Homo sapiens: one gene and its partner. The protein of the gene in region 1 purifies or fractionates together with the protein of each later gene. This does not show direct contact. Each region holds a gene or a part of one and is shown on either strand. Other genes may lie near its edges. The genes, in order: POLR2J3 and RPAP2.

Region 1 (4,597 bases):
CATGGAGGTCGGTGTCATTTTGATAAAAAGGTACCAAGATTATAAAATGCCCAGAGCAAGCCCCCAGAAGGACTTCCTGTAGCTCAGAGAGACTGAGGAAGACTTGGAACTTGTGCTTTGCCCAGAGGGGCCCATTAAACATAGCCCCTGAGAGCCTGTGACGGGAAACTTACGATTTAATGATGTTTCCCAGTGTGTGGTCTTCTTTGTTGATGGTGAATAAACAGGCATTGGGTACCTTGGTGTCCTTGTTAATGGTGATCCTAGGAAGACACAGAGGCCACAGATGAGGAGCAGGGGCTCCCCTCCTCCCACCCTGAGTCTAAACCCTGTCTCCTCCCGGCCAGGTGTGGTGGCTCGTGTCTGTAATCCCAACACTTTGGGAGGCTGAGGTGGATGGATGACCTGAGGTCAGAAGTTCAAGACCAGCCTGCCCAACATGGCAAAACCCTGTCTGTACTAAAAATACAAAGAAAAAAAAAAAATTAGCTGAGTGTGGTGATCCATGCCTGTAGTCCTAGCTACTTGGGAGACTGAGGCAGGAGAATCACCTGAACCTGGGAGGTGGAGTTGCAGTGAGCCGAGATCATGCCACTGCACTCCAGCCTGGGCAACAGAGTGGAACTCTGTATCAAAAATATAAAAATAAAAAGGAAAAATAAGCTCTGCCTCTTCCTGAAGGCCTTTCTCAATCTCTTCATCCCATAAAGGCCTCGCCAACCCGGTCCCCTACTTCCTGCTACCCCAGGTCTATGGAACCTTGGCCTTTTCTGAATTCCTCCTTTTTTTTTTCCGGTAGAGATGGGGTTTTGCCTTGTTGTCCTCGCTGGTCTTGAACTCCTCGCCTCAAATGATCTCTCCTGCTGCCCAGGCTGGAGTGCAGTGGTGTGATCATAGCTCACTGCAGCCTCCAACTCCTCGGCTAAAGTGATCCTCCCGCCTTAGCCTCCTGAGTAGCTGGGACCACAGGCGCACGTCATCATGCCTGGCCTGTTCCTTTTTTCTTACGCCAACATAATGAAGCAACCAAAAGGTGAAGAAGAGAGGCCCTGAAGTTACACGGTGAGGCTGGTCCTGACCCTGTGAGTTCCGAAAGCAACCATCCCCCTGGCTGGAGTGTGCAGTCCTTCCATCCATTCCCCAAAACAAGTCATGCTCTGGCATTTACTATGATTTTAGTGAACGCTTAGATGGACAAAGACAGGAAACTTCCATTGGATTTTCCAAGACAAGGGGTTTTCAGAGTGCAGTTCCCAGATAAGCAGCATCAGAATCCCCTGGGAACTTGTTAAGAGTCTCCCACCTCCCACTTACTGGACCCAGAACTCTGGAGGTGGGGCGCAGGGATCTATGGTTTAAGAAGCCCTTCAGGTGATTCTAATGCACACTCAATTTGAGGGCAACTATGCTGACAGTAAAATCTCACACAGGTGAGAGGTATCAAGTTGAATATCCTTTTTTCTAAGGTGGTTTCTCCAGGCTGACACCACACACATTTTAGGGTGCATCATTCTTTCCTGTGGGGTGCTGTCTTGTGGACATTGTAGGACATCAGCAGCATCCCTGACCTCTACCCAGTAGATTCCAGTCATAACCCCCTTTGACAACCAATAATGTTCTCAGTTATTGCCACATGTCCCTTGTGGGGCCAAATGGTCCCCAGTTGAGAGTCTGCTCTAAAGGAGGCCGAAGTGGCTGGCAAGGGCCAGACCAAGACCTCTGCACGCCAACCTGGGAACAATAAGAGCCAATGGTTATGAGGTTTTCCAGGGGCTGAGCTTTGGACCAAGAGTTTTACACAAATTACCTCATCCAATTCTTTTTATTTTGAGACAGGATTGCGCTCAGTCGCCCAGGCTGGAGTGCAGTGATGCGATCAAAGCTCACTGCAGCCTGGAACTCCTGTGCTCAGCTCAAGCAATCCTCCCACCTGAGCCTCCCAAAGTGCCGGGATTAAAAGCGTGAACCAGCGCACCTGGCCAGATCCCTTTTTTTGTTTTTTGAAACGGAGTTTCGCTCTTGTTGCTCAGGCTGGAGTGCAATGGCGTGATCTCCGCTCACCTCAACCTCCACTTCCCAGGTTCAAGTGATTCTCCTGCCTCAGCCTTCTGAGTAGCTGGGATTACAGGCATCTGCCACCACGCCCGGCTAATTTTGTATTTTTAGTAGAGACAGGGTTTCTCCATGTTGGTCAGGCTGGTCTTGAACTCCCGACCTCAGGTGATCCGCCCGCCTCGGGCTCCCAAAGTGCTGGGATTACAGGTGTCAGCCACCGCACCCGGCCTGAATCCCACGTTTAAGTACAGTAATAAACTCATTTTCCAGATGAGGAAACAGGGCCTCCGACAGATCAAGCCACTCGCCCACAGATACAGAGTGAGCCCAAGCTCTCTCCCCTGGACTCCTTCAACCCGCAGGCAGCGAGGAGCCACTGCGGCTTTTACGCAGGCCGCTGACAGATCGGAGGGGATGAAGGATGGAGGTGGCGGGCGAGAGACAAAAAGAGGAAGCTGCCAGATCCCAGAGGAAAAGGGCTATGGAGAACCAGACACTCTGGGTTCGAATACAAGCGCCGCCACTTCCTGTGTCCGGGGCAACTTGCTCGCCTCCAAGCCTCAGTGTCCTCATCTGCAAAATGAACACACTCGCGACTGCCTCGCGGAACGGCCTTAAATTTGGCTGACACAGGCCGAGCAGACGATCAAGCAAAAGCTGTTTCCCTCCCGGGGCAAGAGATGGGCAGGAGACACCCCAGAATGCGACAGCCGCAGGCCCGCGCACCTCGGCCCTCCGCAGCCGGCGTCACTTACTTCTCGCCCTCGAAGAGCAAGAACGACTCGAAGGCTGGAGGGGCGTTCATGCTCCCGCCGCCGTTGCGTCCAGACCCCAAGTGTCCGCCACCGCCGCCACCAGAGCCCTAATAAGAGGCCTCTTCCGGATTACTCCGGCGGGGCAAACCCGCGCAAGGATCGGCTCATCGCCCCCTGTTGGGCTGGAGGATCTTGCGCAGGCGCGAGAAAACCCCGAGCGAGACCAGTGTCTCTGCGCATGCGTCAGTGGCGAGCGCACCGCCCCCCCCCCCCCCCACCCCCCCACCCCGCACCCCGGCATGGCTTTCCCCGTGGGCGCTTTTCGGCGCATGCTCAGAGCGCCGGCAGGGCTGTTCTGCCCCTACAGAGGCCTCCTAGTCCTGGCTGAGCGGGAACCTCAAGCTGTACCTTTCTCCTTTCCCCATGTCCCTTGATCTCTCTTTGGAAACGTGCACCCCCTTGGAGTGCGCAGCAGGAGGCCCCTGAATAGAGAGAATAAAGCTAAGGGGTAGTGGACAGCTGCGGCTAGCAGCCGTAGGGGGAGCAGAAGATCTCGTGGCCAGAGGCAGATCTATGACAAGCCCCCTGCCCAGGCTGCCTATACCGACTGCTGCAGGACCTCTGCCTGGGGGGTGCAGCTGGCTTGTTAGCCGGGAGGGACAATTGGGTGAGGGATGCAGAAGGAGGCAGGTGTATACAGCAGTGAGAGGGGAGCCCGTAGGGTTACGTATATCTTTTTATATATTATTATTATTATTTAGAGACAGCGTCTCCCTCTGTCGCCCAGGCTGAAGTACAGTGGCGCCATCATGCAGCCTCCAACTCCTGGGCTCCAGAGATCCTCCTGCCTCAGCCTCCCGATAGTTAGGACTGCAGGCATGTGCCATCACACTTAGCTATTTTTTTTTTTATTTTTGGAGATGGTGGGGGGGGGGGTCTCCCTATGTTGCCCAGGCTGGTATTGAACTCCTGGCCTCCAGCAGTCCTCCAGCCTCAGCCTCCCAAAGTGCACTTGGTGGATGTGGGCAGCAAGCCACCCAGGTGCCGAGGCAAGAGACCGAGGGCACGAGCTGTTCCAGTATAATAAAATATATAAAATAAGAATAGTTATACTAGATATAGATCTGAGATATGATTATATATGAATCATTAATCATTAGTTTGTAGTAATTATTCTTTATTCCAATATTATAATAATCCTCGCTCTACAATCATAACCTAGGAAAAACCAGGCCATACAGAGATGGGAGCTGAGGGGACAGTGAGGAGTGACCAGAAGACAAGAGTGCAAGCTTTCTGTTATGCCCGGACAGGGCCACCAGAGGGCTCCTTGGTCTAGCGGTAACGCCAGCATCTGGGAAGACACCTGTTGCCAAGCCCACCGTGGTCTAGCTGTAGCGTTAGTGTCAAGGAAAAACACCCGCTACTTAGCAGACCGGGAAAGGGAGTCTCCCTTTCCCCGGGGGAGTTTAGAGAAGACTCTACTCCTCCACAGGCCCGCCCACAGTTACCCGGAGGCATAACCGTCTCCCTGTGATGCTGTGCTTCAGTGGTCACGCTCCTAGTCCACCTTCATGTTCCATCCTGTACACCTGGCTCTGCCTTCTAGATAGCAGTAGCAAATTAGTGAAAGTACTAAAAGTCTCTGATAAGCAGAAATAATGGTGTAAGCTGTCTCTCTCTCTTTCTCCTCTCTCTCTCTGCCTCGGCTGCCAGGCAGGGAAGGGCCCCTGTCCAGTGGACACGTGACCCATGTGGCCTTACCTATCATTGGAGATGGCTCACTC
Region 2 (3,816 bases), on another chromosome or scaffold:
CGCACATAGCCCTGCCCCCATGACGGTCCTTCCCTACCCACTCCGGTAGCTGAAGACAAAGGGCATATATTCTTGGGAGTTCTACGGCCCTACCCACAGCCTGATCCTCCCTATACTACCACAACTGATGCTCTCTTGAAAGTGCCACCTTCTGGCAGGAGGCTAACCAGCACAAAAATAGTACATTAAACAACCAAAAGCAAGGATCCTCACAGAATCCATTTCACCCCCCTGCCATCTCCACCAGAGCAGGTGCTGGTATCCATGGCTGAGAGATCTGCAGACCTGACCTAAGAGATTATCCAAGTGGTCAATAAGCAAATAAAATAGTGCTGAATTTATTCATCATCACAGTAATGTATTATAATCATAAACCAATACTACCAGAATGGCTAAAACTAACTATATCAAGTACCAGGGAGGACATGGAATCAAGGAAACTCCCATATAGTAGTAGTGGAACTGTAAACCGGTACAACCACTTTGGAAAACTGTTTGGCATTATCTAGTATAGTTGCATATATGCATATACGATAACCCACCATTCCCAGTCCTAGATACTTCAGAAATACATACGCATATTAGCAGAGAGATAAATACGAGAAAGTTCCTAAGAATATTGTTCATAATAGCCCCAAATTGGAAATAGTCTAAATGTCCATTAGCATAAATAAATGGTATATTTATATAATGGAATACTATACAGCAATAAAAGAATGAACTACAGCTATATGCAACAACACAAATGACTCAAAAGTATAATATTGCATGAAATAAACTGGACACCAAGAATATATACTGGAAAAAAAATGACAGAACTAATCTGTGCTAATATAATATTAATTTTGGAAAGAGGTGCTGATTAGGAGGGGATATATATGGGGCTTCTAGTTTACTTGTAATGACCTATTTCTTGGCTTGGGTAGTGATTACATCAGGACATTCATATGTGAATACTCAAGAAATCATATAATTACTATTTGTGTTGTACTTCAATGGAAATGTTTTAACATGTTATGTAACATTTTTGGAAAATGTTATAAATTTTTAAAAGTCAAATTTCAGGGATTATTTTTTCCTTTTTAAGGCTAAAAAGGACAAAATGATAAAATAAGTGATGTTCTATGGTAGGTTTATGCAGCTCAGTGACAGAGATCAATGTTTCTCCTAGCTTAATATAAGTTTTGGATGATGTCTAATAAGATACTTGAAATGATTTGAAGTAGGGTGCTGGGCCAAGCAACACTCTATAGAAATATATTTCTAAATTTTTTACTACATTTCTACTTCTACCCTCTTTCCAAATCTCCAATGTGCTTTTAAATTTAGAGCCACATTTACTTAGGAATATTTGAGAACAAAGTTTTGTGGTAAAAACAAGGTTATTACCCATTCCTCTTCATGTTAAATGACTTCATTTTCCAGGGAGTATACATCAATCAAAGATGGGTAGTAGAAATACTAAAAGATGCTCTCTAAATCTCAGTGGCACATTTTCAATCTCTACATATGGGTACTATTTACTGAGTACCAATTATATGTCATGTACTGTGATAAATGCTTTATACACATTATCTTTAAAACAAATAACAATTGAGCAAGAGAAGCTATTAATAGTTCCATTTACAGATGAGCAAACAGACCAAGAAACTAATTTTTCATACAGCTAGTAAATGACACAACAGATGTTCAAATCTAGGTCTATCTGAATGTGCTTTCCATTCTCTTTGTCCATTATTTCCCAATAAGTCTCTTTTACAAACTATTTTGATCTGTAATGTTTTCAATGGACATGCTTGCTAAATATTTTCCAATGTAACTACCAAGTCTATTCCATGGCATATACTTCCATTAAACACACACACACAGACCCCATGTAAAAATCTGAAAGAATACCGAAGAAGAAAAAGCAAGCCTCTTCAGAGGCTTCATTTATTGTATGAAGAATTAGGGAAAACTTTGTCCCACCATTTTAGGCTATTTTTACATTAGAAAAAAATATTGCACACTGATGAAAATTTGCTAGGGGTAAACGTCAACTTATTTGTAAAATAGTAATGCCAACAGTGGAGATGGCACTGTAAACCAAAAGGCAGAATGACTAAAGAAACTATTTGAAAATTTAACAATTAACTCTTCAATATCCTTCCTGCTCCAAGATTTGCTGTGGTGAGTTTTCCAAATGTTAACGATCTGGAAAAACTCAATGTCTGTAAGACATACCTCTTCTGAGTCTTGTGATTTGGTGGTTTCTTCACCCAAAACATACCGTCCTCTGTAAAACTCCCTGATCCTCAGATTTAACTTTTCAGTTTCTTTTTTCAAATTCTCGTAACTTGGCAGTGGTTTAATGGCTGTACCTGAGCCCCTAAAAGGTAAAGACTCATCCAAGCTGTTCTGAGATTCCCTCCAGGCAGGGAAATGACTATCTGGATCTGAGATTATGTCATCTTCATCAAGTTCTTCTTTAACCAGAGAGGCTTCGGGTTTCAGACACACAGAAGCATAATTCTGGCCATACAAAAACCTCAATGTTTCTTCTGTCTTCCACTCAATCAAAGTCTCCTTCAAAACTTTAAGTAAGTTTCTCTTTCCAACTTCAGGACACACCTGCACTGAACTAGACACTGACCTAGACACTTGGTTTGATTTGGCAAATTTTCTCTTAAAATGCTCTGCACTTTTCTTACTTATGCCTACTAGAGTTATTTCTGACCTACTGTATTCACTTTCAGAATTTTCTGACGCTTTTAATCTTTCAGGCAAAGTGCTATTTGAAGAACTCTGAGTATTTACTTTCTGTAAAGGAAGTTCACATGTAGCATCTTTCTCCTGACTATCTAATTTGCAATCGCCTAACTGCTCAGTGACATCTACTACTGTCTGTTCTTTGTCTTTGTGTTTGGAGTTAGCTTTGTGACCAGCTTTCTTTTTCATTATGCTTTTTTGGTGCAGCTGTGGTCTAATATTTGTTGAATTTGGTCTGTTTCCTGGTAGAATGGAGGAAACAAAGTCTTGCTCATTGTCACTGCTACTATCACTGTGAGTGCTAGAAGAACTAGATTCATATTGCTTTTCAAAGTGGCTAGGATTGTCGATATCTGATGTTTTAATGGCTTTACTGCATAACTGTACTTCTTCTCCAGAATGGCCACTGTAGAATGAAAGAGAAATAAAATAACTAAATAAAAAATAGCAAATAAAACCCGAAAACAATAGAAAAGTAAAGTACCCCATAGTATTTATACATTGTAACTTTCAAGGTAGAAATTTTTATTCCCCAGACAAAACCTTATTTCTAGGTTCTGATATATAAATTTCAGAAGAAGCCTATAATTTCAGTACATCTGTTAATAATATATTTTTTGATATAGTTCTCCTTCTGTATTCTTCCTTCATCTTTTTCCCCCAATTATTTTAAAATTGTTACAGGAGTACAGCAAAACTTTTTAAAAAACTTGATAATGCTATCCTACTGCACTATTTGGATTTGCCTGTTGTTGCAAATATATATATATATATAAATATATATATAAAGTATATATATAAATATAAAGATATATAAATATATAAAAATATAAAGTATATATTTATATGTACACATATTTACATATATAATATATACTTGTACATATATAATGTATATTATATATAATATATAAAGTATATATGTAGTTTAAAAAATATATAATATGAAAAATAATATAAAAATAAATATATATTTTTAAGACAAAGTCTGTGTTGCCCAGGCTGGAGTGCAATGGTGTGAACTCAGCTCACTGCAACCTCTGCCCCCTAGGTTCAAGCGATTCTCCC

The links.
Region 2: the proteins of POLR2J3 (region 1) and RPAP2 purify together in Homo sapiens (affinity purification with mass spectrometry, with the first as the bait; one large-scale study listed by BioGRID). This does not show direct contact.

The regions. Positions count from the first base shown.
Region 1 is NC_000007.14:102,569,662-102,574,258, forward strand, and holds the start of POLR2J3 (DNA-directed RNA polymerase II subunit RPB11-b2), read right to left. Parts: upstream 2,923-4,597; 5' UTR 2,861-2,922; coding exon 2,811-2,860; intron 264-2,810; coding exon 174-263; intron 1-173. Other genes in the region: uncharacterized protein LOC124901712, read right to left, coding at 4,146-4,263. UniProt on the Homo sapiens protein: DNA-dependent RNA polymerase catalyzes the transcription of DNA into RNA using the four ribonucleoside triphosphates as substrates. Component of RNA polymerase II which synthesizes mRNA precursors and many functional non-coding RNAs.
Region 2 is NC_000001.11:92,322,783-92,326,598, reverse strand, and holds part of RPAP2 (putative RNA polymerase II subunit B1 CTD phosphatase RPAP2), read right to left. Parts: intron 3,155-3,816; coding exon 2,224-3,154; intron 1-2,223.